3 separate regions of the Homo sapiens genome follow, and regions 2 and 3 are each linked to region 1. The links come from fine-mapping of genetic effects on gene expression. A gene starts in region 1. Each other region holds a variant in brackets. All regions are shown on one strand. Distances are from middle to middle.

Region 1 (8,184 bases):
AGTTTCTGTAGGTAAGGAATTCAGGAGAGGCTTAGCTGGGTTGTTCTGGCTCAGGGAATCCATGAGGCTATAATCAAGATGTTGGGTAAATCATCTAAAGTCTTCATGGGCTGGAGAATTCACTGCAACAGTAGTGAGCCACTGACTTGATGGTGGGTAGGAGGCTTCAGTTCCTCACCACATGGATCTCTCCACACAGCTGCTTGAGAGTTCTCACAACATGGCAGCTGGCTTCTTCCCAAAGCTTCCCATGGCAGGCCTTCTTTCCAAGACAGAACAAGGCAAAAATTAAGTATTTCATGATGCAGCCTAGGAAGTCACACACCACCAGTTACACAATATCTTACTGGTTGCAAAAATCAGCCCTATCAATGTGGAAAAGCACTACACAGGCATGAAATGGCTCATTGGGTACCATCTTGGAAGCTAGCTGCCATACCATTTCTTCTTAGGTTCAGTTTCCAGATTATCAGATCTTAGGTGTGAAGTGTGTTTAGACATTAAAAAATCAGAACACTGAGGACACTGAGAATTCTGACTGTAGTCCAAGGGCCACAGGAACCTGAACCCAAGCAATCCTTTGCATTGGTGGAACACAGGGACCTACCTGGAGGAAGAAATTCTCTGACTCCAATTGCACCCCTAATTGCCACTAGCATCAAGCCAAACAGGGGACTGGGGCCTCAATATGAACAAGAACTAAGTCAAAACATTCTTATCAGCTGGAAAAAGGGAAGCTGAGATGCCCTAAAAAATGTTCTGTTAAGCCTTATTTTTTACTTTTAAGTTCAGGGGTACATGTGAAGAATGTGCAGGTTTGTTACATACGTAAAAGTGTGCCATGGTGGTTTGCTGCACAGATCATCCCATCACCTAGGTTTTAAGCCCAGCATCCATTAGCTATTCTTCCTGATGTTCTCCCTCCCCAAGTCCCCACCCCAGACAGGCCCCAGCATTTGTTGTTCCCCATCCCCATGTGTCCATGTGTTCTCATCATTCAGCTCCCACTTGTAAGTAAGAATATGCAGTGTTTGGTTTTCTGTTCCTGTGTTAGTTTGCTGAGAATAATGGCTTCCAGTTCCATCCATGTCCCTGCAAGGGAATGATCTCATTGCTTTTTATGGCTGTATCATATTCCATGGTGTATATGTACCACATTTTCTTTATCACTGATGGACATTTAGGTTGATTCCATGTCTTTGCTATTGCGAATGTGCTGCAATAAGCATATGGTGCATGTATCTTTATAAAAGAATGACTTGTATTCCTTTGGGTATATACCCAGTAATGGGATTGCTGGGTCTGCTGAGCTTTTCATTGGACAGTAGACAAAATGGAAAGAAAAATCCCTCTCTTCATAAGACATTTCTGGTAGTTCCAATTCAAGCTTATCTTTCCCCCACTGACTTCTTTTGCACTTGTTTTTACTGCACAATTAGCTTTTTAATATGTATTATCTGATTGTCTTTGATGAGCAATTTAGTACTTTATTATATGTCCTGAGAATAATTACATCAGAGTCTAAATCCCCCGCAAGGATGTTGTAAATTCCTTGAAGTCAGGGAAATTTCTTAAGCTTACTACTCAGCCCACCATCAGTGTCAATAGATTGTTCTCCAGGAACACGGCCCCTCCAAAGCACTCAAATACACAAGCCATCACACACATGCACACTACAAGAGCAGTGCTCTATAAAGAACAAGCTTTATTTGTCCCATTTCACAAAAATAGTAATTAGACATAGCCAAGATCATACTGACACAGCCATTCTTTATTTAAAAGCACAGTCAAGTAAAAAATACACTTCAAAGAGATACTACCCAATACTCAACACAGTCCTCAAACTTGTGCATTTAAAAAGAATTACAAATACACATTGCCACATGGTCCGACAGACTCACATTCACTCCTAGAAATGTACCTTCACGGTCTTGCCAATGCATTCTTCTTATTAATTTCCCATTCATTTGTTTACTTAACATTTTGAGCCCTGTGGCTCAGGCTCCATATTAGATGTGTGGAATTCAAAAACGGAACAACGCATTCTTGCCTCCTCTGCAAACAAGTATCCTCAATCCAATGACATTACTATACTGAGAAGACATATTTATACAAGGTGAGATGGGAGAAAAAAAAAAAGCCTAAATCTTCCTGAGGGTCAGGTAACTCTGTACAGAGGAGAGAATAAAAGAAGGTCAGTATCATGTATGTGGGCAGACAAGAAGGTGGTTAGTTGCAGAAGTCCTGTTAATTGCAGAAGTCTGAGCCAGGAAACCATCAGAGAGGGTTTTTCCTTACAGTTTGAGGCCCCTTGGGCCCAAGACAAAACATCATATGGCACCCTTGACATATGGCACCCTTGACAAAGCTTAAGGCAGGGACCCTGGGCCCTTTCCACTCTGGGTCTGCTGGAAGGGAAGGGCAGAGCTTCCTAAAAAGGGAGCCAACTGGCCTCTCCACATGGAGGCCCTAATGGTTTGATGGATGCACTGCTAGCCCTGCAGAAACCCACAAGAGGGAGAGAATCATTGGTAGGGGACTCAGGGAAGAGGAAGATCTCGGTCTCCCAAAAAAATTTTCTCTTTCTGGAGAATATGGGCTTCGAGCTGGATATCAAGGAGGCAAAGAAGGAGCACATAGGAGGGTAGGGAGTGAAGTGGAAACTTCCCTGGTGAGTAGGGGAAGCAAAGAAAGGAGAACAAGGCAAAGGGACTAAGAAAAGATTAACTTACAAGAACAAATGCTAGAGTCTTGTCTCCAGAGGTAGTGCAACCAGAAATCCTGAAGAGCAGTTGAATTGAGAAGAGAAGTGGGAGGTCAGGGGGTTGGGGGAAGAGGTGACTGGTGGCTGAGAGGCCATGGCTGGGAAAGAGAGAAAGGAATAAACTGGGGAGGGCTGGTAACCTTGATAGGAATTTATGTAGGAAATGAGAGTGCAAACAGGAAGGGCTTAATGAGGGCTGTGATTGTCTGGAAGGAGAAAAAGGGGAGATTTGGCACCTCCTGGAACCTGGGGAAAGTAATTGTCTGGGTAAATGGTAAGTGTATTTCCCACAGGGTCAGAGCAGGCTTTGATCTTTAGGAGAAGACAAATTGCTTTCCATCTTGCTGAAGCCAAAGGCTTAAATGGTCAGACGTGTGTCATAGGTGGGTGCAAAGGGAAGGAAATATAATACATCCTCATGGCCAAGTGCCCTGGGCTTGGATCACTGTGTCCTTGGCCAAGTTAACCAACTTCTTTAAGCTTCCAATGATTCATGTACAAAAAAAGATACAAAAATACCTTTCACATGTGGTTCTTCCAGAAAGCGCTTGGCACAGGGCCTGGTACATAAACAAATTCAATAAGGGTTAACTATTTTCATAATTACAGTTAGTCTGCATCGCTAGAAGCACATTATTCAAATGAGGATATGGACTGGTCAGATGACAGTGGAAACGGTGTTCAGATCTAGGGGCCCCCACCTAGTAAGAACAACACTAATCAACTCTAGCCTGCCCAGGGGACAGTGACCCAGAGAACTAGGAAACCTTGAAAAATGAAGAAATATGAAATACTAATAAAAATTAAGAAAACCCACAAGCGTTTAACCCAGATAATATTTGGGGACATGAGGGGGTTATGTGAAGAGAAAACAATGTTCCATTTAACTTTAGGAAATGGCGATATTATTAAAGATTTTGGAGGCATTAGTCATCATCCTTTGGTCAAGTTTATTAACCTCTCCAGTGCCTCTGTTTTTTCATCCATAAAATGGGATTCACTAGATCACCTATCTTATAAGATTACTGTGGCAATTAAATGAGTCAGTATGTGCTAAGTGCTTAGAAGACTATCTAGCACATAATAAATGCTCAATAAGTCCTGAGGAGCAACTGGATTGACAGGAGAAGTTGGTGCTGGTTATTATTATTACTATAATTATTACCCTGGGTAAGTTTTTAATAGTTCCAGCAATGAAAAAATGAGAATAGCCTCCTTGCAGCAGTAATTCCCTCTTACTGGAACAGTTCAAAAAGTCGCTGATAACGACCAGTCAATCATTAGAGAGGAGACTCCTCGTCCTGGGAGAAAGCCGATTTGTCATCTCTTAAACCCCAGGGCATCCAGCGTGAAGGAGGTAGAACTAGGCCGGCCCGCGAGGAGGCAGGGGCAGGCGCCAGTGACGCAATGACTGCAACATGCCGCCAGGGTGCAGCAGAGCCCGACCCCGGGTTGTTCCATCCGCAGCAAACAATTCCTAACTCGCTCCAGGTCTTCCTTCTTAGCTGAGTGGGTTGAACCCCGTGGAAGTAACCCCCCGCCCATTATGATGATCCAGCCAATCACCGCGTGATCTGCTCGGACGGGGCGGGATCGCGGCGCTTCCCTCGGTCGCTCAGAGACTGGGTTCCGCGTTCCAGCCCCGCCCCAGGTTCTGGGCCAATCCCCGCGGCTGGGCAGAGCGACCCGAGGGCGGCGCCCTGCAGACCACGTGGCCCGGGAGGCGCCGAGGCCAGGTAGGTGGTGAGTTACTTGGCTCGGAGCGGGCGAGGGGACGCGTGGGCGGAGCGGGGCTGGCCAGCCTCGGCCCCCATGACCCGCTGTCCTGTGCCCTTTCCCAGCGATGGGCGTGCAGCCCCCCAACTTCTCCTGGGTGCTTCCGGGCCGGCTGGCGGGACTGGCGCTGCCGCGGCTCCCCGCCCACTACCAGTTCCTGTTGGACCTGGGCGTGCGGCACCTGGTGTCCCTGACGGAGCGCGGGCCCCCTCACAGCGACAGCTGCCCCGGCCTCACCCTGCACCGCCTGCGCATCCCCGACTTCTGCCCGCCGGCCCCCGACCAGATCGACCGCTTCGTGCAGATCGTGGACGAGGCCAACGCACGGGGAGAGGTCAGCGGGCGGGGTCAGCGCAGGGAGGGAGGGGCCTGGAAGGTCAGCGGGGGACACGGGCGGAGCTGGGGAGACCGGGCCTGGGATAACTTAACTGGGCTCGGGGAGGCAGACAGTAGGGCCGGGAGACTGGGAAGCCAGTGCGGGGGAGGGAAGCGCTAAACGGAAGGAACTAAAGAGAGGGCGAAGCAGTGCGAACTGGGCTTGAGGAGAGGCAGTGAAAACCAGCTAATACTGTGAGTTGTGAAGGAGAAGGGTGTGGACAGACACCTGGGAGAGGTGGGGGTTGAAGTCAGGTGGAGGCTGTTTACCATTTTCTAGAGTAAAGCTGTCCAAATATAATGGAACCTAAGTGGCTCCATGTAATGTTAATTTTTCTAGCAACGGCATTCTTAAAAAGCAGGGAAGCAGATAAAATTAACTTTGGTGATCTTAATGAGATATTTTCATTCTTTTTTCTACTACCTCTTCATACCCTGTTGCGTTTTTCACACTACATCTCAGTTTGGACTAGCCACATTTCGAGTACAGTAGCCACAGTAGCCGTGGCTACTGTCTTCTGTATTGAACACCACAGGTGGAGGGCTGTGTAGAGGTGGACAGCTCTTGAACCAGCCAGTGCAGAGGCCTCCTAGCCACCTAGTGCAGGGACAGCCCTCCCTGACTTTGCTGCAGAGCCCTGGACCTGGCACAGAAGAAGGAGCTGTGGGGAGAACCAAGTGAGGGGCAGGAAACAGTTGTGGGTGGGGGAGTTGAGTGGCACCCATCGAGCCCCCTCTTCGTAGGCTGTGGGAGTGCACTGTGCTCTGGGCTTTGGCCGCACTGGCACCATGCTGGCCTGTTACCTGGTGAAGGAGCGGGGCTTGGCTGCAGGAGATGCCATTGCTGAAATCCGACGACTACGACCCGGCTCCATCGAGACCTATGAGCAGGAGAAAGCAGTCTTCCAGTTCTACCAGCGAACGAAATAAGGGGCCTTAGTACCCTTCTACCAGGCCCTCACTCCCCTTCCCCATGTTGTCGATGGGGCCAGAGATGAAGGGAAGTGGACTAAAGTATTAAACCCTCTAGCTCCCATTGGCTGAAGACACTGAAGTAGCCCACCCCTGCAGGCAGGTCCTGATTGAAGGGGAGGCTTGTACTGCTTTGTTGAATAAATGAGTTTTACGAACCAGGGCACGTTGCATGGTACTTTATAAAGCATTCCCACACATTAACTTACTTCAGCCTCACTGTAGCCCTGTGATACAGGAAAGACAGATGGGCCATCTCTGTTCTTTGGATGAGGTGGGCAAAGCTCAGAGAGGCCCATCTTCAACACTTCTAGAAAGTGGAAGGATGGGCCAGAACAGCAACACACGTCTTCAATCCCTTGAAGATGCTGAAATGCTATGTATCTGTTCCCTGACAATATTTGATGTGTTTTCTGGGGGAGCTAGTCAATGAAAAGGATTCAGGTCCAGAATAGCCTGGCCTCCTGGCATTCCCAGGTCTCTGATGCTCACAGGCCAGGAGGCCCCTCCGTGTAGGCCCACCTGCTGCACACGTGTCACCCTTGTTTATCTGGGGGTAGAGACAGCCTGGATGTCACACTCACAGATAACCACCATCTCCACCTCCACAGGGCTGGTCACCTCTTACCAACCTCAGGTGCTGCTCAGCTCATCTGGGCTCTCTGGCTCATTCTGCTGCCCCACAACCTCAGGCCAAAGGACCTGAGAACAGAGCCAATCTAGGCAGTTATGCAGAGCAGATATTTAACAATTAAATGAAGAGTTCCAGGGCTCTAAATCTTGGCCATGTTTCTCAGATGTTATCTCCAGTTATCCCCTATTGGACCCCATTCTGCCCCCTTGTTGGGCCCTGTTTTGCCAGCACCACTACACTTTTGACTTATGAGAAATGGGAAGAATGGCATATATCCGCCCAATGGACTCTTTACTGTAGGTCTGCCTGTGGTCTTTTCTGCAATAGCAGGCTGAATAAGATAGAAATTCACCATAAAATATGTGAGTTCCTGTACGTACCTGTATGAGTTCTGTTAGATCTGGAGGCCGCACAGTGGAATGAGACATAATTCCTGCTCTCAGGAGCTCAGCCTGCTGGAGAAGATGGGCACAGATAGAGTCCACCACAGACAATGGATGCTATTGTAGACATGCATTCCAGTTCCAGTGGAGACATAGAAGAGTGGGGAGTCAAGGGTTCCCCTGTAGATCTCATCTTTTGTATCATAGACCAGAGACAGGCCTAGCCAACTGGTCCTCCTTTCTGCTGCTTTCCCCCTTCCACCACTAACCACCCAGTTCATCCCTGTCCAACTCAACCTTAAACAAGAGATATCAGCTGAAGTCTTGCCAATCTAAGGCCATAAGATGCCCTCTCCCCAGTTTAACTTTATTTGTCAAATCTGAGTGATCAGTTCCTTCAAGCTTAGTCTCCACCTAGCCTACTCAAGTGAGGATGTCTCCCAAAGAGAAGAAACCCACACATTCCAGGCATTCCAGCTGCAACAGAGGAATGAGAATGCAAATAGAGGATGCACTGAAACCCTTACCCTCCTGTCACCAAAAGTTCTGTCTACCCTGCTCTCCCCCATCCACCCCTCCCCCAATAGTATGGCCCCATTCTGTTTCTGATGCAAACCAGAACATCTTCCAAAGGGGTGTGTGTGTATTTTCATGTGAAGGGAGTAGGGCATGAAGGGTGTGAATGGGCCACTTCCTGAACCTCTCCCCTCCAGTCGGAGGGCTTACCAGGATGGAGAGAGAGAGAGAGAGGTGTGAGGCATGAAGCTTCCCCAAGTTCGTGTCTCCACTCTGATCCTCACCTGCTAGGCCATACAACCAATCCTTGCCCTTTCTGCCTCTGTTCCTGTGTCACTCCATCCTCCCCACATCTCTGCACTGTGGAAGAGGAATATGCCCTTCCCTTCCTCCCAAGGCTCCTGCAAGGGAAACAAAATTTTGCTAACCCCATTAAAGCCCTGTGTACTGCCTCCATCCCCATAATTTAAGCAAGTCTCCTCTGCCTCAAGAGTTCCTTAGGGAAATACACGTATAATTAAGTGCTTAAGGAAACTGCTTTTTAAATAATAAGAGTTGGCTTGAAATGAAAAACTCTGCCCTTATCCTTCCATCTACCTGGTGGGTTAGCCTGTGGCTTCCTTTGGGCTCGTTTCCACTCCCAGTTGTTTTTGTCTTCTCACCAAGCCCTCTTATGTCTATGGCTACCAATAAGGGGTAACAGACGAGCCATGTCCCTTCCCTTTCTACGCTGAGATAGATGATCTGTGCCACCATCTAAAAAG
Region 2 (8,184 bases), 130 kb before region 1:
TTGTCCCCAAATAATGCACAGCTGTTTAGCACTTTGGCATTAATCACAAGGACAAAATCCCCAGATCTGCTCTCCAAACAAGCAAAAGTCTACATAAAGAAGGCTCTTATTTCAAGTCTTTGGGTGAAGAGAAAAGCAGAGAACACCTGGAATAGCTTCAGATTTCCACAATAGGCAAGATATTCCTTACAGAACAACCAGCCAGACCCAGAAGTAGAACACATTGATGTTTTTTACCACCAGTATAAATATTTGCTTACTTTGTCAGTAGTGGGTCCTCAGCTGTCTTCCTCTCCCTGCCTACATAACACCATGATGAATCTTATCCCTCAGCCATAGTAAGACCTCCATTTGGAGAAGGCAACTTGGGGAAAGGCACATCAATAGCAATTCAAGCAAGAAAATCCTACCAGGCCTTTAGGTGATGAGGAAAAGTAATTTCAAACCTAGAAGACTACCTCCAACCAAAGTATCAATCAGCTGTAAAGATGAAACCAAGACTTTTGAACATACAAAGATTTAGAACATTTACTGTTCAGGTACTATTTCTATTAAAAACTTATTCTAGATTGCTTTTTGGCAAAACAAAAAATATTCAAGAAATTATAATATACTTCCTGTTTCTAGTAATGGCAGACACATTTATTTGGAAAATAGCTTAAGAGCTAGGTAAAACATTTTTAAATCTTGAAAGAAAGAAAGAAAGAAAGAGAAAGAAAGAGAGAGAAAGGAAAGGAAAGGAAAGGGAAGTAGAAAGAAGTAAGGGAGGGAGAGAGGGAAGGAAGGAAGGAAGGAAGAAAGGAAGGAAGGAAGGAAGGAAGGCAGGCAGGCAGGCAAGCTGGGCGCAGTGGCTCACGCCTGTAATCCCAGAACTTTGGGAGGCCGAAGCAGGGAAGATCAAAAGGTCAGGAGATCGAGACCATCCTGGCTAGCATGATGAAACCCTGTCTCTACTAAAAATACAAAAAAATTAGCCAGGCATGGTGGTGGATGCCTGTAGTCCCAGCTACTCAGGAGCTGAGGCAGGAGAATGGCATGAACCCAGGAGGCGGAGCTTGCAGTAAGCCAAAATCACGCCACTGTGCTCCAGCCTGGGCGACAGAACAACTCGTCTCAACAACAACAACAAAAAAAGAGAAAGAAAAGAGAGAGGGGGAGGGGAGGGGGAGGGGAAGGGGGAGGGGAGGGGGGAGGGAGGGGGAGGGGAGGGGAGCGGGGGGAGGGGAGGCGAGGGGAGGGGAGGATTCTAAAACAAATACAAGGCCAAAACTGAAGGTAAACTAGAAACCCAAGGAGATAAATTAATATGGAAGTTACTTTGGCTCTAAGGGTATTTGCCAGTCCTAGCCAATTTGAATTTTTATTTTCCCTTTCAACTTTCATTTTGGAACTAATTTAAGTTCTACATTATGTATTTTACGTTAAACTTCTACTTTAGTAGTTTTGCGTGTGTTTAGCCTTTTATGAATGAAATTATATTATATATGTTATTCTGTGCCTGGCTTATTTGGCTCAACATTATGTCTTTGAAATTCATATATTTTTTGGTAGTGTATAGCTGTAATTTATACATGTATTTCACAATATATTTATCATGTATACTGTTTGATACTTGAGTTATTCTTGGCTTGGGGGATGCTCTAAATAGATCTGCTATACACAGGCTTATACATATCCCAGTACACAAGGATGTCCTCACATCAATTCTCCAATATTACATTTTGTAACACCATTTGGCAACAATTTAATCTACAGGGGCCTTGACCATTTAATCATCCCTCAAGACCTCACACCAGTCCACTACACTGACAGTGTCATGCAGATAGGTCCTGGAAACAATGTTACAGGGCCAATAGGTTCATATGCCTGCTTCACAGTAACATACCAATACACTGAGACAGCAGGATTTACAGCAGAGAAAGAGTTTAAGTTCAGGGTGGCCAAGCAAGGAGATGAGATGAGACTTCAAATTCATCTCCCTGAGGAGTTCTTGGCTGTGCCTTTTAAGGGGATCATGGAAGGCAAGAGGCTGGAAAATTGGGGTCATAGATTGGTAGAGGTAAGGGGCATGAAATAATCAGTATGTGGAAATTGTATTCTTTGGTGAGTTAGCTCCCCAGGGGGTCCTTCAGACCAAATGATGTCAGTAGCTTCATTAATAAGCAGGACCTGAAAGAACACCTCAAAGGAAAAACAACAATTCATAATATTCAAGTTGTTAGTTATAGAGCAATTAAGAGTAACTATAATCTTGTAACAGGTCTACATGATTCTAGGACAATAGGCACCAAATAGCTATAAGGAAGCATGTCAGAGAGCAAGCTCACATAATGATTATTGATGAATGGGCTGCAAGCTTGGTTTATTTTCACTAGCCCCCTTGCCTTCTTCCCTGATTAATTTTATAAAGTTTATAGGAATGGTTTCATTAAGAAGTAGCAAGTACTTTCCATGTTTTAGTAAGGCCTACATAGTAAGTTGCACAAAAACAAAGAAGGGGGCTGGGCACCATAGCTCACGCCTGTAATATCACCACTTTGGGAGGCCAAGGCAGGCGGATCACAAGGTCAGGAGTTCGAGACCAGCCTGGCCAACGTAGTGAAACCCCATCTCTACTAAAGAAATACAAAAAAATTAGCCGGGCATGGTCATGTGCACCTATAATCCCAGCTACTCAGGAAGCTGAGGCAGGATAATCACTTGAACCCAGGAGGCAGAGGTTGCAGTGAGCCGAGATGACGCCACTGCAGTCCAATCTGGGTAACAGAGCGAGACTCCATCTCAAAAAAATAAATAAAGCAAAAGCATTCATGCAGCCCATTTACCTGTCATTTCAGAGTGGCCCATTCATAAAGAGCCTAGAGCCTGAAAATATCTGAACATAGCATCTCATACAAATTCCTCACTGAAGATGAGATGCTTAATAATCAGAGCATCAGGAGAACTATTTTGTTGTTGATCCCAACTCTTTTTCTGGCCAGCACATTCACTGCTAAATGAACTAATAAATTAAAGGCCGTGATGGAGGATATACATGGACTTACTAGCATGGACTTCCACTCACCAAATCTGACTTGGTTACTTAATGCTAAACTCCTGACATGGAGAAAGAGAAAATGGCATTATTCTCTATCATGAATAGGGTAGCAGTTCGTCCTCAAGAATAGACATATTACGGGTTTAGATTTGTTTCCCTGCTCATCAAATATCTGTCAGCACCACCTTTGGTGGTTATACTAAATTTCTTATGCATCATTGTGGCATCCTACATAATAGTGCCTCTGACAGAGGAACACATTTCACAATGAAAGAGAGGAATAATCTGATGCCCATGGAGGGAAATGGCCAAATTATTTTCTAATTATTATGGACTTATAAAAGGCTTTTGCAATGAGATGTGTGTGTGTGTGTGTGTGTGTGTGTGTGTGTGTGTGTATGTGCCTGTGTGTATTTGTGGCTGCTGTAGAAATTTTTAAAGTTTTTTAATTTGTATATAAAATACGATAAATAAGTTTTAAAATTTGATCACTATATTATTAAATATGCAAAGATTCATTTTCACACTATCTTTAATAATTTATAATATAAAAAGACATTTTTACATTTAACAAGTGACATGCTACTTAATTTGCTTTAAGTTACATGTGTGTATCTGACTATATTATAAATAAATTCTTAAAATTGATATTATGCTTGATTTAGAACCCAAATGTAGGTCTTTGTAACACATTGTTAGATACAATCACGACAAATTTTCTATCTTAATACAGAGAACGCTTAATGTGCCACATAAGAGTTTTGATTAGCTGAATGCCACTTAAAGATTTGGTAAGATCATCTTGAGATGAATTTGCTGAATTATTGTCATTAACTTATACTTCAACATCAAGCTTCATTATGTTTCTTGTATTTATCAACAGTTCATTATGAGTATAAATTAAATAGCATGCAACTATGAATAAAATAATTTAAAACTGTTTAATGGTCAAAACTATTAAACAAGAGTTTCTGAGTACATTCATCTGATTGCCATCAGCCACAGATAATGTTCATTCTATATCTGCTCAAGAATGACAAACTGTCCCATTTCCAAAAGGCAAACTAGAAAATGTTAGTTTATTAGATACTTAGCCAAATTTCGTTACTATCTTTATCCACACAAACTTCCTTGAATACATCTATGAACCCTGGGAATTTGTGAGCCACCAGATAGGGAAGGCTGGTATACTCTACCACAAAAGTGGCATCTCATGATGCCAGCTCTGAGACACAGGCTAGGCTGCTGCCTTACAGCATGCCATTAAACTCTGACCAGTCTCACAGCCAACAACCAAGGCATGGAGGTGGGAGTGACACTTTTACCTGTTTATGCTTACCTTGACTAATTCTAAAAAGGGTTTGAGGCAGCTTGAAAAAAATTCGGGGAACATTAGTTCACAAATAAGCAAATAAGGCAATAAGGATAAAGGAAAAATAAGGGTAAATAATTAAGTGTTATAGAAATTGTAACACCTAAGGGAAGAAAACTTACACTGGAAAACACAACAAAGATTTTCCATATTTGGTACAGAGACAACCAC[A/G]GGGCCACTAGAAGGAAGTTGCAGAATCTTGGCTTGTGTGATTGACTAACTCTCCACAGGAAATAGGGTTGCTATTCTGAAAAGGGAACTAAACATCTAGGGAGTCTTGGAGATCAAAGAAGAGGCTCTGACCATGTTCCCCTTTCTTTTTGCAAACACTCCTGTTTAAATTGGTGAGCCAAGCTTGGATATATTAAACTCCTACCACCAAAAACATATTAGAGCATATTAGGATCAAGTCATATATGCCTTAATGCTGCCACAACACCAAGCTGCCAGGAAAATTCTTTGTTCTATTATGCACAAATTTAAATATTAAGAGAAGACAATCCAAATTCTTAACAGGTAGTAACACTAGTTGCTCAGACCCTCAGGATTGAGGATCAACCCACCAAGAGAGAAAAATCACAATCCAATGATGTCATAAGACAAAGAGAACATAGAATTACCGAAGTTAGAAAAAAGTCAAAATTCAAGAAAGTCTTGTGACCAATAAAATAAATGAAGATTGTGGTTTCCTTTTATTTTTCCTTGCTTACTATTTGGATATAATTATCATCCCCTTTTCTTTATCTATCTAAAGAGGGATTATATTTTTTCTTCTTTTTCCTCCTCTTTCCACTGATCATTGCATATACAATGTGATTTTTGGGGGGATAACTTTATCCATAGGTGGCAGAATATTTTAGATGAATCACAAAAAACTAGAGAAATGATCATTCAAAGAGGTAGAATCGGGGAAACAGTGGCAGAGGACGTTGCCCTGAGATGCAGTAAATATGTATAACTTTGGGTTGTCGCCAAAAATGGGGCCCAGTGGTGACACCTCTCCTATCAACTGTGTTGCCTGATCACACCTGATGATATAGGGGCAGACATAGCACCCATGATGAAACAATCAAATTCTCTCTCCTATGAATCTGGAATTTTTACTGGAGAGCACAGAGACTGGCACAGAGACTGGCAGTTGAAGGCTCTGAGTCATATTCATGGCAAAGACCTAGTGAGCAGATCCACAGACTCAGTTACTAAGGATGCAAGAATCATCATGTCACCACCTTTCCTCACAGCAGTTCTTTAAGTTCTCTGAAATACTCCAATATCTTTTCACTTAATTCCTTTGTTGTTAAGGTCGTTTGTGTTTTAGATGGTCTTAAGTTAGTAAGACTGACAGATTTTATTATAATACAAATATAATAACCAGTACAAAGGTAATAAAATTCTAATCAAATTTTCAACATAATTTTTTATGAAATATAAAAAGTGCATTCCAAAACTCACCTGGAAGACCAAGCTCACAAGAATAACCAACAAAACATGAAAGAGGGAAAATACTGATTGGAGAATTGCCTTGCCAAACATCAAAATGTACTATAAAACCATAGTAATTTAAATATGTGCTATTTATATGATAATACGCCAAAGACAAAAGGAAGAGCAGTTTCAGAAGCAAATTCATTTATATGTGAATTTAAAATATTTTAGAGGTAAAATTTTAAATAAGTAAAAGAAATTCAATATGCAATTTTCTACCCGTATAAGAGAAAAAAAGTTGATCATCTTTCACAATATACATAAAATTGAGTTGAAAATTATTTAAGCTTTAAAAGAGATTTTGTAAATGGTAAAAATATTAAAATTTTAAAGACTATATTTATAATCTTTGAGTGAGTAAGGTTTGCTTACATAAAAAAATACATAAAAATTCTACTCTCTAAGAAATTGAAATTTCTACACAGCAAAAAAATAAAAAATTATAAAATTTTTAAAATGCCATAGGGTTAAAAATTAATTGACAAACTTGGAAAAATATCTGGCACACATCAAATAAAATAGACAAAAATTAATTAGTTTAATATATATAGAATTCCTAGAAATCACTGAAAAATAGATTAATAATATGGTAGGAAAATGAGCAAAGCATTTGAAAAGACTACTCATATCGAGGAAAGATACTCAGCCTTGGAAATTAGGGAGGTGCAAAATGATGTACTTTTTTATGCATCATATTGGCAAACCCTTTAAAGTTCGAAAATATCAGGTGGGAAATACTGGAAATGGGAGAAAAAGCACTTATATGCCCATTTGGTGGGAATGTCAATTTTTTACAGCCTTTATTAAACAATTAAGCAACATCTAGTAGAATGTTAAGTCATATAGCCTTTAATCTAGCAATTTCACTTCTGGGTACTTGTTATGAAAAATATGCATACATATATACAAAGAGATATGATTAACAATATTCTTGACTATAATAGCAAAAAAAAACGGTAGACATAACACAGATGTTGGATAAAATTAAAGGCATCTCAAATACCAAGGATGACAAGCTAAAAAAGCTGGAATGGAAAGTGAGGGTTGTAAAGGGCTGCTCAGAATCCCACAGTGTCCATTCCAGCTAGCGAACTCTGCAAGGTCTCTGTTGATAGCAAAATCCAGGCCTGTGAGAGAAGCTGGTAGAAGAAATATACAGGAAAATGGTAGGCCCAAAGAGCACTTGTGAGCACAGGCTGGCTGGAGCCTGATAGCACAATGTTAATTATGGGAGCAGTAACCTGGGCATGATAGAGTTTGTAGGAGAAAACAAACCTTAAAAGGAAATAAATAACCTTAAAGTTCAGATGGAAGGTCCATTAGCCAGCAAAATTGCTATGACCATGAAAACAAAATGGTTACTTCAGGCAGCAGATCAAGAATAGAGAGGAGAAAATTGAAAGAATTGCCAAGAAGCCATTAGAATAATGAAAAGGAAGCTAGATAATGAATTTGACCTCTGCATTAGTTTGCTGGGGATGCACTCAGTACTACAGATTGGGTGGCTTCACATCAGAAGTGTATTTCCTTTCAGTTCTGGAGGCTGGATGTCTGAGATCAAGGTGTGGACAGGATTTTCTTCTAAGGCCTCTCTCCTTGGCTTGTCAGTGGCCATCTTTTCCCTGTGTCTTCACCTAATTTTTTCTCTATATGTGTCTGTGTCCTAATCTCTTCTAATGAGAATACCAGTCATATTGGATTAGAGCCCAATCACATGACCTCATTTTACCTCCATTGCCTCTTTAAAGGCTCTATCTCCAAATAGTCACATTCTGAAGTACTGGGACTTAGAACTTCAGCATATGAAATTGCTGGGGATACAATTCAACCTGTAACAGCCTCCTCATAGTTAGAGGTCATCTGCCTGGAATGCATCCCATGCTCCTTCCCCACTACACTTTTCCATGCTAAAGCTACAAAATCCTACAGGACTCAACTTAGATGCGATTTCCTCAGAGATATCTTTCCCATTCCACATAACGTCAACCGAAATTGAGCTCCTCTGTTTTACTTTCTCATATCACTTACAGTCTGCAAAAACCATTATTTATTCTTTATATTAGTTGTCACAGTTTACAACACTATAGCCATGCAACTAGGGTGTCAGTTGTTGTTGTTGTTGAATCACTCACCATCTCAAAATGTAGCTCTGTGGACTTTCAGTTCACTACCACCCCAAAAGTAACAAAGTCCCTAATACATATGAATAATAATAACAGTTAGCAATTATCGAGACTTTACTGTGCGTCACTTTGCTAAGCACTTTATGTTAATTCTTTATTCCTCTATC
Region 3 (8,184 bases), 360 kb after region 1:
ATGCCCTCCCTGCCCCATTTCCTACCCCACACAGGTCCCTGCCATCTCCTTGGCCTATGAGGCAGCTGAGAGTGATATCATGAAGCGGCAGCCACGAAACTCCCAGACGGACAAGCTGGTGAATGAGAGGCTCATCAGCATGGCCTACGGACAGATCGGTGCGCCAAGCCCCGGGCCTCGGGAGGGAACCCCAACAGGGTTCTTTTCCCAGCTTTCAGAGGAATGAGCCCCAAGCAAAATTCCAGGACAGAGGCCAGCTACCCAAGGGTCAGGGACCTCCATCTCTGGCCCTGAGGGGCTGTGCCCCTTCTGCTTCCTGCTCTGACCCTGCCCCTGCCTTTGGCCCTCTACCCACAGGGATGATCCAGGCACTGGGTGGCTTCTTCACCTACTTTGTGATCCTGGCAGAGAACGGTTTCCTGCCATCACGGCTACTGGGAATCCGCCTCGACTGGGATGACCGGACCATGAATGATCTGGAGGACAGCTATGGACAGGAGTGGGTGAGTGGTGCTGTGTAAACACAGCGCACATGTGTGAAGGTACGGGAAGCTGAATGCCTGGCAGGAGTGGCCAGTGGTGGCCAACTGGGACTGGGGCTAGGGGTGGATCAGGAGAAACCATGCTACCTTCTGGTCCTACCCTTTCCTCCGACACTCTCATCTGTCTCTGCCCACCCTCCCTCCAGACCTATGAGCAGCGGAAGGTGGTGGAGTTCACGTGCCACACGGCATTCTTTGCCAGCATCGTGGTGGTGCAGTGGGCTGACCTCATCATCTGCAAGACCCGCCGCAACTCAGTCTTCCAGCAGGGCATGAAGTGAGTGCCCACCCCCATGGCACCTACCCACCCAGGCTCTGGGCACACTCACCAACCCACACAGGCCAAGCTTCCAACTCAGCCCTGGACCAGAGCTGTAAGGAGGGCATCAGATTTTAATCTTCCATCTGTATATCCATAGATAGGTTTCATATAGAAGAGAGAAGCCATGCTTCAGGCTCCTAATTTTGCATTTTGTTATTGTCTCTCTCCACCTTTCTTCTCTCCTTCTCTCCCTCCCTTCTTTCCCCCATCTCCTACTTGAGTGCCACCTGCTCCTATCCTTTGCCCAGCCCTAAATCCAGTGTCTTCTGTGCCCACCCCTCCCCTGGCCTTCCGCAGGCAGTCTAGTTTATAGCACTTGCACTGTGGTTCTGGAGGCCACGTGCTGCCGAGGGTCGGGTTCAGCGCTTCTTGCAGTGTGAGTTCCAGCGTGCCAGGCACTGTGCTAAGTGCCTAACACATTGTTTAGCCCCACGATAGCTCTATGAGGTGGGTATTACTGTTTACATTTCATGGATAAGAGGCCCCAAACAGGTTAAATGATGTGCCCAAGGTCACCAAGATGGTAAGGGTTCACCAGATCTGTCTCTAAAACCCAGCCCTGGCTACTACCCAACATTTCTGTGCTCACACCATCTGGCACTGTTTGGAACTCAGTAATGACTGTGATTCTATTATGGGTGGTGGTTGAGCGCTGAAGGTTTCATGCTGGTTCCTTTTATTTTCTCCTACCATAAACAATGGCCACAATTCCTCACATGAGGTTGTTACAGTTTCTTAGTTTGGGGCTGGGGAGGGTGGGGAGAAGATGCCAAAGTGAAGTTAATAACACTTAAGATCCAAGGGAGAATAAAGTGAAAAGCCTGTTAGATAAATAAAGGTAACATGAAGGAAGGAGATTCCAGTAAGCTAAAAATACTAATGGAAAAAAAATGCAATTTGAAGAGAACAAGGAGCAGAGAGTCTAAGAAATTGGGTATAATTCTGGGGCCTGGGACTTGCTATGCACTGCAGGGATGACACACGAAGGTGGGAACATGGCCATAGTGGCTGCATCCAGCCCATCTTAGAGGCAAATGGGAAAAATGGCAAATGAAAATCAGGCTGGGTACAGAGGAAGAGTACTAATACCACCACAGGCCTCACCTTAGGTCCCTGGGCCACTGGGGATCCTCAGAGATGCTATTTGCCTTATTTTGAAAAGCTTTATGAAAATAAAGCACTCACCTATGCGAAGGCAACCAGGCTTACTAATGTGTCATTCTTAGGCAAAAGCCAAGAGCGCATATCATGACGTGGTGATCGGATGCTGATTCACAGTTCTGTCTGGAAGCCATGGATAGTTCTAATTAATTTTAAATGGGGAAATGTATTCAATACTTATTCACAAATGTAGCTTGAGAGACAAACAATTAAATGTGGCCTTTACAGAAGAAAATAAGGAGGTCCTTAGTGAGTGAAAATTTGGAAATCACTGGCTTGAACCAAAAAGAGGTACCTTGTGTAAGAATACAAAAGATGGAGTAGCCGGGGACAGTGGTTCACACCTGTAATCCCAGCACTTTGGGAGGCTGAGACAGGAGAATCAATTGAGCCCAAGAGTTTGGTACTAGCCTGGGCACATGGTGAAACTCTATCTCTACAAAAAATATAAAAATTAGCAGGGCGTGGTGGCACACACCTGTAATTCCAGCTACTGGAGAGGCTGAGGCAAGAGGGTCACTTGAGCCCAAGAGGTGGAGGTTACAGTGAGCTGTGATCGTCCAGCCTGGGCAACAGAGTGAGACTCTGTCTCAGAAAAAAAAAGTGGAGTAATAATGTGACTGAACATTTTCCAGGTCTGTCACTGAACATTTCAGTGACAGAACATTGCAGAGCTTTTCACGTGTTATCTCCCTTAATTTTCCCAGCAACCCTATGATAAAAAGGTAAAATCTCCATTTGATAGAGAAGGAACGTGAGGCTCAGAGAAATTCAACATTGCCTGCAACCCAAAGCTAGTCAATGGCAGAACTGGGAATAGACACCACCTGTCTGACTGCAGAAACTGCCCTGAGAACCTCCTTATTCTATCCTGCTTTTCAATTCTGATAAAGTGAACATATATTAACCACTTATTATGCAGTGATCCCCTTTACATTCTCTGAATTAAATATCTATAATGAAACCACCACCAGGAACTGTGGGAGATGCTGAGACGGTAGAAGACATACATGGGCCCTGCACTGAAGGAGCTTTCAAGCATCTTGCTGGGGAGACACACTTTCATGGGCCCTGTGCCTGGAGCAATAACAAGATCATGAGACAGGCCCCATGTTGACCACCGTGTCTCCAGTACAGAACACGTCACCCAACACCTAGAAACAATTATTTAATGAATGAATATACGTGCAATAGACAACATTCGGACGTAAACTCAGTAAGCAGAAAAACAAATAACATCTTCCTTTGGTTACATAAAGCATGAGAAGAGGCTGTTGGAAGAAGACATGCGACTATGTCGTTTAGAATTCTCTCTCCTCTTTCCCTTGCACCCCAGGGGTATCCCAGGATCTCTGCCTCCATGATCCCCCTTCACCTGCCACCTCCTTTCTTTGCCTTTCAGGAACAAGATCCTGATTTTTGGGCTCCTGGAGGAGACGGCGTTGGCTGCCTTTCTCTCTTACTGCCCAGGCATGGGTGTAGCCCTCCGCATGTACCCGCTCAAGTGAGTGTCTCTTTCGGGCGGCCTGAGTAGTCATACGGGGGGCCTTCAGCCCCCTCCAGGATCCAAGTTCTGATCGCTTTGAATGCTCCTTTATGTGACAGCCACCAAGCCAACCTCTGATGCTGCTGACACTCTCCTCCATTGCTTTCAGAGTCACCTGGTGGTTCTGCGCCTTCCCCTACAGCCTCCTCATCTTCATCTATGATGAGGTCCGAAAGCTCATCCTGCGGCGGTATCCTGGTGGTAAGCCCCTCCACATTCCCCCCAGCAAAGTGCAAGCCCCACCACCAGCTCCTCCCTCCAGGACCACACGCAGACTCCACTCCCACTACTGGTTCCTGCTTCTGTTCCTCAACACCCTCAGATCCTGGGGTCCCAGGTCCCAGGAGCCCTGACTCTTTCGAACCTGTTGTCTCTGCCCTCTTCCCATCAGATTCTAAACCCCGCCTAACTCACAGTTGGTCTCCGAGGCCCTCCACCTTCCACCTGAAACCACAGAACATCAGAATTAGAAGGGCCTTTCCAGGTCACCTAGTCCCACGTCCATATTTTACAGATAGAGGAGGCTCAGAGGTGAATCTGTTCAGGGTCGTAAAGCAAAGAATAGCAGGACTGGTACTAGAACCCAGGCCTCCTGATCCCCACTCATCAACCGACAAGTTATTGTTTTTCCTACAAGCGTTTTTTAATCACTTAGTAGAGGTTAAAATATGATGGCTTACAAACCAAATACTGTCCAGGAATACTGTTTGGTTTGACCTGTGCCATATTTTGTGTGTGTGGGGGGAGGAGGGTGGATTAATTGGTCCGATATAGAAAATTTAGGGTCTTTCACATAAAATCTGAATTCGACTTCTCCTGAAGATCAGAAGAGCTGTTAATCCCATGTCCACATCTCTGCACAGCAAGAATGGACAGCTGCTCCCTTAGACTCTCGTTCGTCACCTGAAGAGGCCCTGTGGGCGTTTGCATTTTCACCCTCGACCTATTCTGCCCCAGCCTCCAATGTGCTAAATACAAGTCTCCCCTAAAGGCAGGTTCACCCTCCCTTCCTTTAACCTATGGCCCCAGCTCACTGGACCTCCTTCTCCTCCCTTTCACCTTCTTTTTTTTTTTTTTTTTTTTTTTTTTTTTGAGACGGAGTCTCGCTCTGTC[G/A]CCCAACCAGGAGTGCAGTGCAGTGGCACGATCTCGGCTCACTGCAAGCTCCGCCTCCTGGGTTCAAGCAATTCTCTTGCCTCAGCCTCCAGAGTAGCTGGGATTGCAGGCGCATGCCACTATGCCCGACTAATTTTTTGTATTTTTAGTACAGACAGGGTTTCACTGGGTTAGCCAGGAGTCTTGATCTCCGCCTGCCTCAGCCTCCCAGTATGCTGGGATTACAGGCATGAGCCACTGCACCCAGCCTCCTTCCACCTTCCTAAGCCACTTCCCCCAGTGCCCTTCACCAGGCTTCTCCTTCCACCTGGCTTCAGCGACCCAAGCCCCTAGGAAATTGATCTCTTGCCTCCTTTTAAGCTCATGCTGCAATCTCCACTCCCAATCTCTCTAACAGGCTGGGTGGAGAAGGAGACATACTACTGACCCCATTGGAAGAAGAACCAGGCATGGAAAGATGGGGAGCTCTGGAGGTGTTGTGGGGATGGTGATGGAGAGGGATGGAAATAACGGGTGGCATTGGGTGGCAACATTTGGGGAGAGATAATGAGGCAACTCAGCAGGCTAAGTTGCGGGGTATATAAATTGGGGTGATGACCCCATAGACCTAACTGTGAACAATCAGATTAGACACTATGTGTTAGAGTCCCCCCGACCAGATCCTTTTCCATCCCACTCCACTATGTTGTCTATTTTTTCTGAGGAATTAAGGGTTACCCCACCCTGCCCACTCCCATCCCTTCAACCCCACTTCCTACTGTAATAGATCAGCATCCAAAAGCAGGAACCCATCTAAACCAGAAGGAAGCCCTCTCAGATCACCCCAGCCTCACTCCATTTCCCACTTCCACCCCCGTTAGCTTCCTGCAGGACTCTATCCCTGGCTTCCCCTTCAGACCTTGCAATCACAAAAGGTTCTTCTGGTGAGTGCAAGAGCCTGAGACTGGAAAAGGTGGACTTGTCTCCCAGTCGAGGCTGGTAAGGGACCTTCAGGGAGAGCTGGGCAGACAGGTGGGAGATGGAGGTAGGGCTGGCTGGAGGAAGGAAACAACAAAGGAAGTGAGGTAGTGCCAATGACAGGACATTTGACATGAGTCTCCAGATAGATGTCGTGGACTCCAGCTCTACGTCCCACATTTTAGAATACCCCACCAGCAGAACAAACTCAGATCTCATCAGGGTAGCAGCAGAGGCAGGACCAGAAGGCAATCAAGAGCTTCCAGAAATGCCACACTTGTGTGCCACAGAGTTCCCCGCTGACCCTTGGTTAGGGGTCCTCTTAGTCCACAAGGTCCGGATGTCACTCATGTACTTAATAACACTTCACCTTCTGTAATACTAAGTCCTCAGAGCTCCATGCTGTTCTGAAAGGGATGGCCACAAGTTCTTTCCCAGCCTCTTCCATTCCCTTTCTTTTCATGCCCATCCCGATGAACCTGCATCATTCCCCGACACTGCCAAGCCAACCCTGGAAAAGGAGTTCGCTGGCCATTGGCTAGAATCAGGGTGGAGAAGTTCCCTGAACCTTCCTGTCTCCCAGGGACATGTATGCTTCCAGGGACAAGCTTAGGTCATGAACATGGTCAGAACCTTTGGACAAGAGGAAAAATACTAAGAGATTTGCTTTTTCTGGGTGCGGTGGCTCATGCCTGTAATCCCAGCACTTTGGGAGGCCGAGGCAGGTGGATCATGAGGTCAGGAGTTCGAGGCGAGCCTGGCCAACATGGTGAAACCCTGTCTCTACTAAAAGTACAAAAAATTAGCCAGTCATGGTGGCACACGCCTGTAATCTCAGCTACTCAGGAGGCTGAGGCAGGAGAATTGCTTGAACCTGTGAGGAAGAGGTTGCAGTGAGCTGAGATCGTGCCATTACACTCCAGCCTGGGCGAAAGGGTGAGACTCCATCTCAAAAAAAAAAAAAATGATTTGCTTTTGACGTCTTAGGTGGCAGGGCTGTTCCCTCCAGGCAAATGCCCTTCAAACCGACGATCATTGTGCCCACTTACCCTGGGCTGGAGAGTTGGTTTCAGGTTCCTACAGGAGATAGCTTTCTTTCCCTTACTCCCTATCTAACACTTTTGCTCTGCAGGCAGCCTTGCCCATTCTCTAAGCCTGGCTTAGAAGGCACTGGGAATGTCCTGTAGAGAGAGACCTAGATAGGTCATGCAAGTGAGAAAGACATCTGAGGAAAATGGAAGACCTAAGGCAGACAGGAAGGAAGCACAAAAGACAAGCATTGGGTCAGACCCATAAACCACCTCCCAAAGGCTGTCATTTCATTGCACTGGAATTTTGCTTTATCAGAAGCAAGGAAGTAAGGGAGTCATTGCCTTGGGCCTGGGAATCTAAGTGGGAGACAATATTAATTTGGATCCGATTAATTGGAGATTACTAACTGTGGACAAAAGTTTATCTTTGCACAATCAATAAAAATGGCATTTTTTTAGTAAATTAAGAGCATAAACAATATTGCTAGAGGTGGCATGTTTAGTCTACCAAAAACAATACTTTTCAGGCACTTTAGAAATATCCTTTTAGAAGCAGCGAGTGCATGGGCTAATTATCATCAATCTTTATGTATTTGTTAAAGAAACATCTACAGGATCTTTATTGGTGACCTTTTGTAAGACATTAGTTTGAGGTACTACCTATGTACTTGAAAATAATAAAGTGGCATTTCTTTATGAAAAAAAAAGAAATCTCTTCCATAATTCAGATTTCTACACTTTATACTTGCCTCCCTCCTAAATCGTGATATTGAAATATGTGCTGTGGCAGAACTCGGCTTGTAGGGAAAGCAACAAAGAGATAGCAAGTGTCAGGGATGGGAGGGAAATGGTCTGGGAGCAGATGATGTCCGTGGAGAAAGCAAGAGGGGAAGAAGTTAGGTTGCAAAATAACCTACAAGAAACTATAGCAGGAGCCTCCTTCCTCATGCTGATCCCACCCTAAGAGCCACAAGAGTTTGTCCAGGACAGGGAGGGGCCTGTGAGTCTATTAAGAACAAGATCCTCAGGGGCACTTCTGCTTTTTCTGTTCCAGACCAAAATCAGGCCATTCTCTATCTGATGGGATGGGGGAAGGAGATAGTGGGTTGAGGAGCCCAAGAGTCAACACCAATTCACAATCTGTACTTCATGCAGAGCTTTGTCCTGGGTGCTCTCTTTAAGGGGTGGGGGTAAAGTGGATGCAATCCTTGAAATTCACCTGAGTAGTAGACATCAGAAACCATCATGGACAGAATGTAATGAGCAGTAGGGGGGACGCTTGTGTGCTGGAGATGGAGGGGTGGGTGGGTGGGTGTGCATTGCTCCAGGGGGGCCCTGGGAATGGGAGAGAGAAAGACACCAACTCTTACAACCTATGCCAGGATTTCAGAATAACGGTCAGAAGTCAATTCTTGCCCAAGCCATATTGCAGCCCCTTTATTATGACTCTTAACAGTGTCATTAATGACAGTTATAGTTAGTAGTGATTATAAGAGCCTTAATCACAGCTCA

Evidence for each region. PIP is the estimated chance that this variant, and not a neighbour inherited with it, causes the effect. A credible set is the group of variants that fine-mapping cannot tell apart.
Region 2: its variant is the best candidate, but not a certain one, in a credible set for the expression of DUSP23 in whole blood (TOPMed, PIP 0.84).
Region 3: its variant is the best candidate, but not a certain one, in a credible set for the expression of DUSP23 in testis (GTEx, PIP 0.82).

Annotation. Positions count from the first base shown.
Region 1 is chr1:159,776,494-159,784,677 of GRCh38, forward strand. DUSP23 (dual specificity phosphatase 23) reads left to right here and starts at 4,469. Exons shown (of 2, transcript NM_001319658.2): 1 at 4,469-4,874; 2 at 5,660-6,050. The coding sequence starts at 4,608. The coding sequence ends at 5,845. It overlaps LOC101928264 (a long non-coding RNA gene), which reads right to left and starts at 2,888. Exons shown (of 3, transcript XR_922193.3): 1 at 2,733-2,888; 2 at 1,922-2,168; 3 at 1-262. RefSeq lists a silencer at 4,404-4,793 and an enhancer at 4,785-5,361.
Region 2 is chr1:159,642,259-159,650,442 of GRCh38, forward strand. No RefSeq gene overlaps it. Among named protein-coding and RNA genes, the nearest start is that of APCS, 59 kb to the left of the region's middle. The variant A/G (reference allele first, on the strand shown) is at 4,581.
Region 3 is chr1:160,136,213-160,144,396 of GRCh38, forward strand. It overlaps ATP1A2 (ATPase Na+/K+ transporting subunit alpha 2), which reads left to right. Exons shown (of 23, transcript NM_000702.4): 18 at 35-158; 19 at 358-503; 20 at 689-819; 21 at 3,428-3,529; 22 at 3,681-3,772; 23 at 5,082-7,379. The coding sequence ends at 5,110. Among named protein-coding and RNA genes, the nearest start is that of ATP1A4, 11 kb to the right of the region's middle. The variant G/A (reference allele first, on the strand shown) is at 4,685.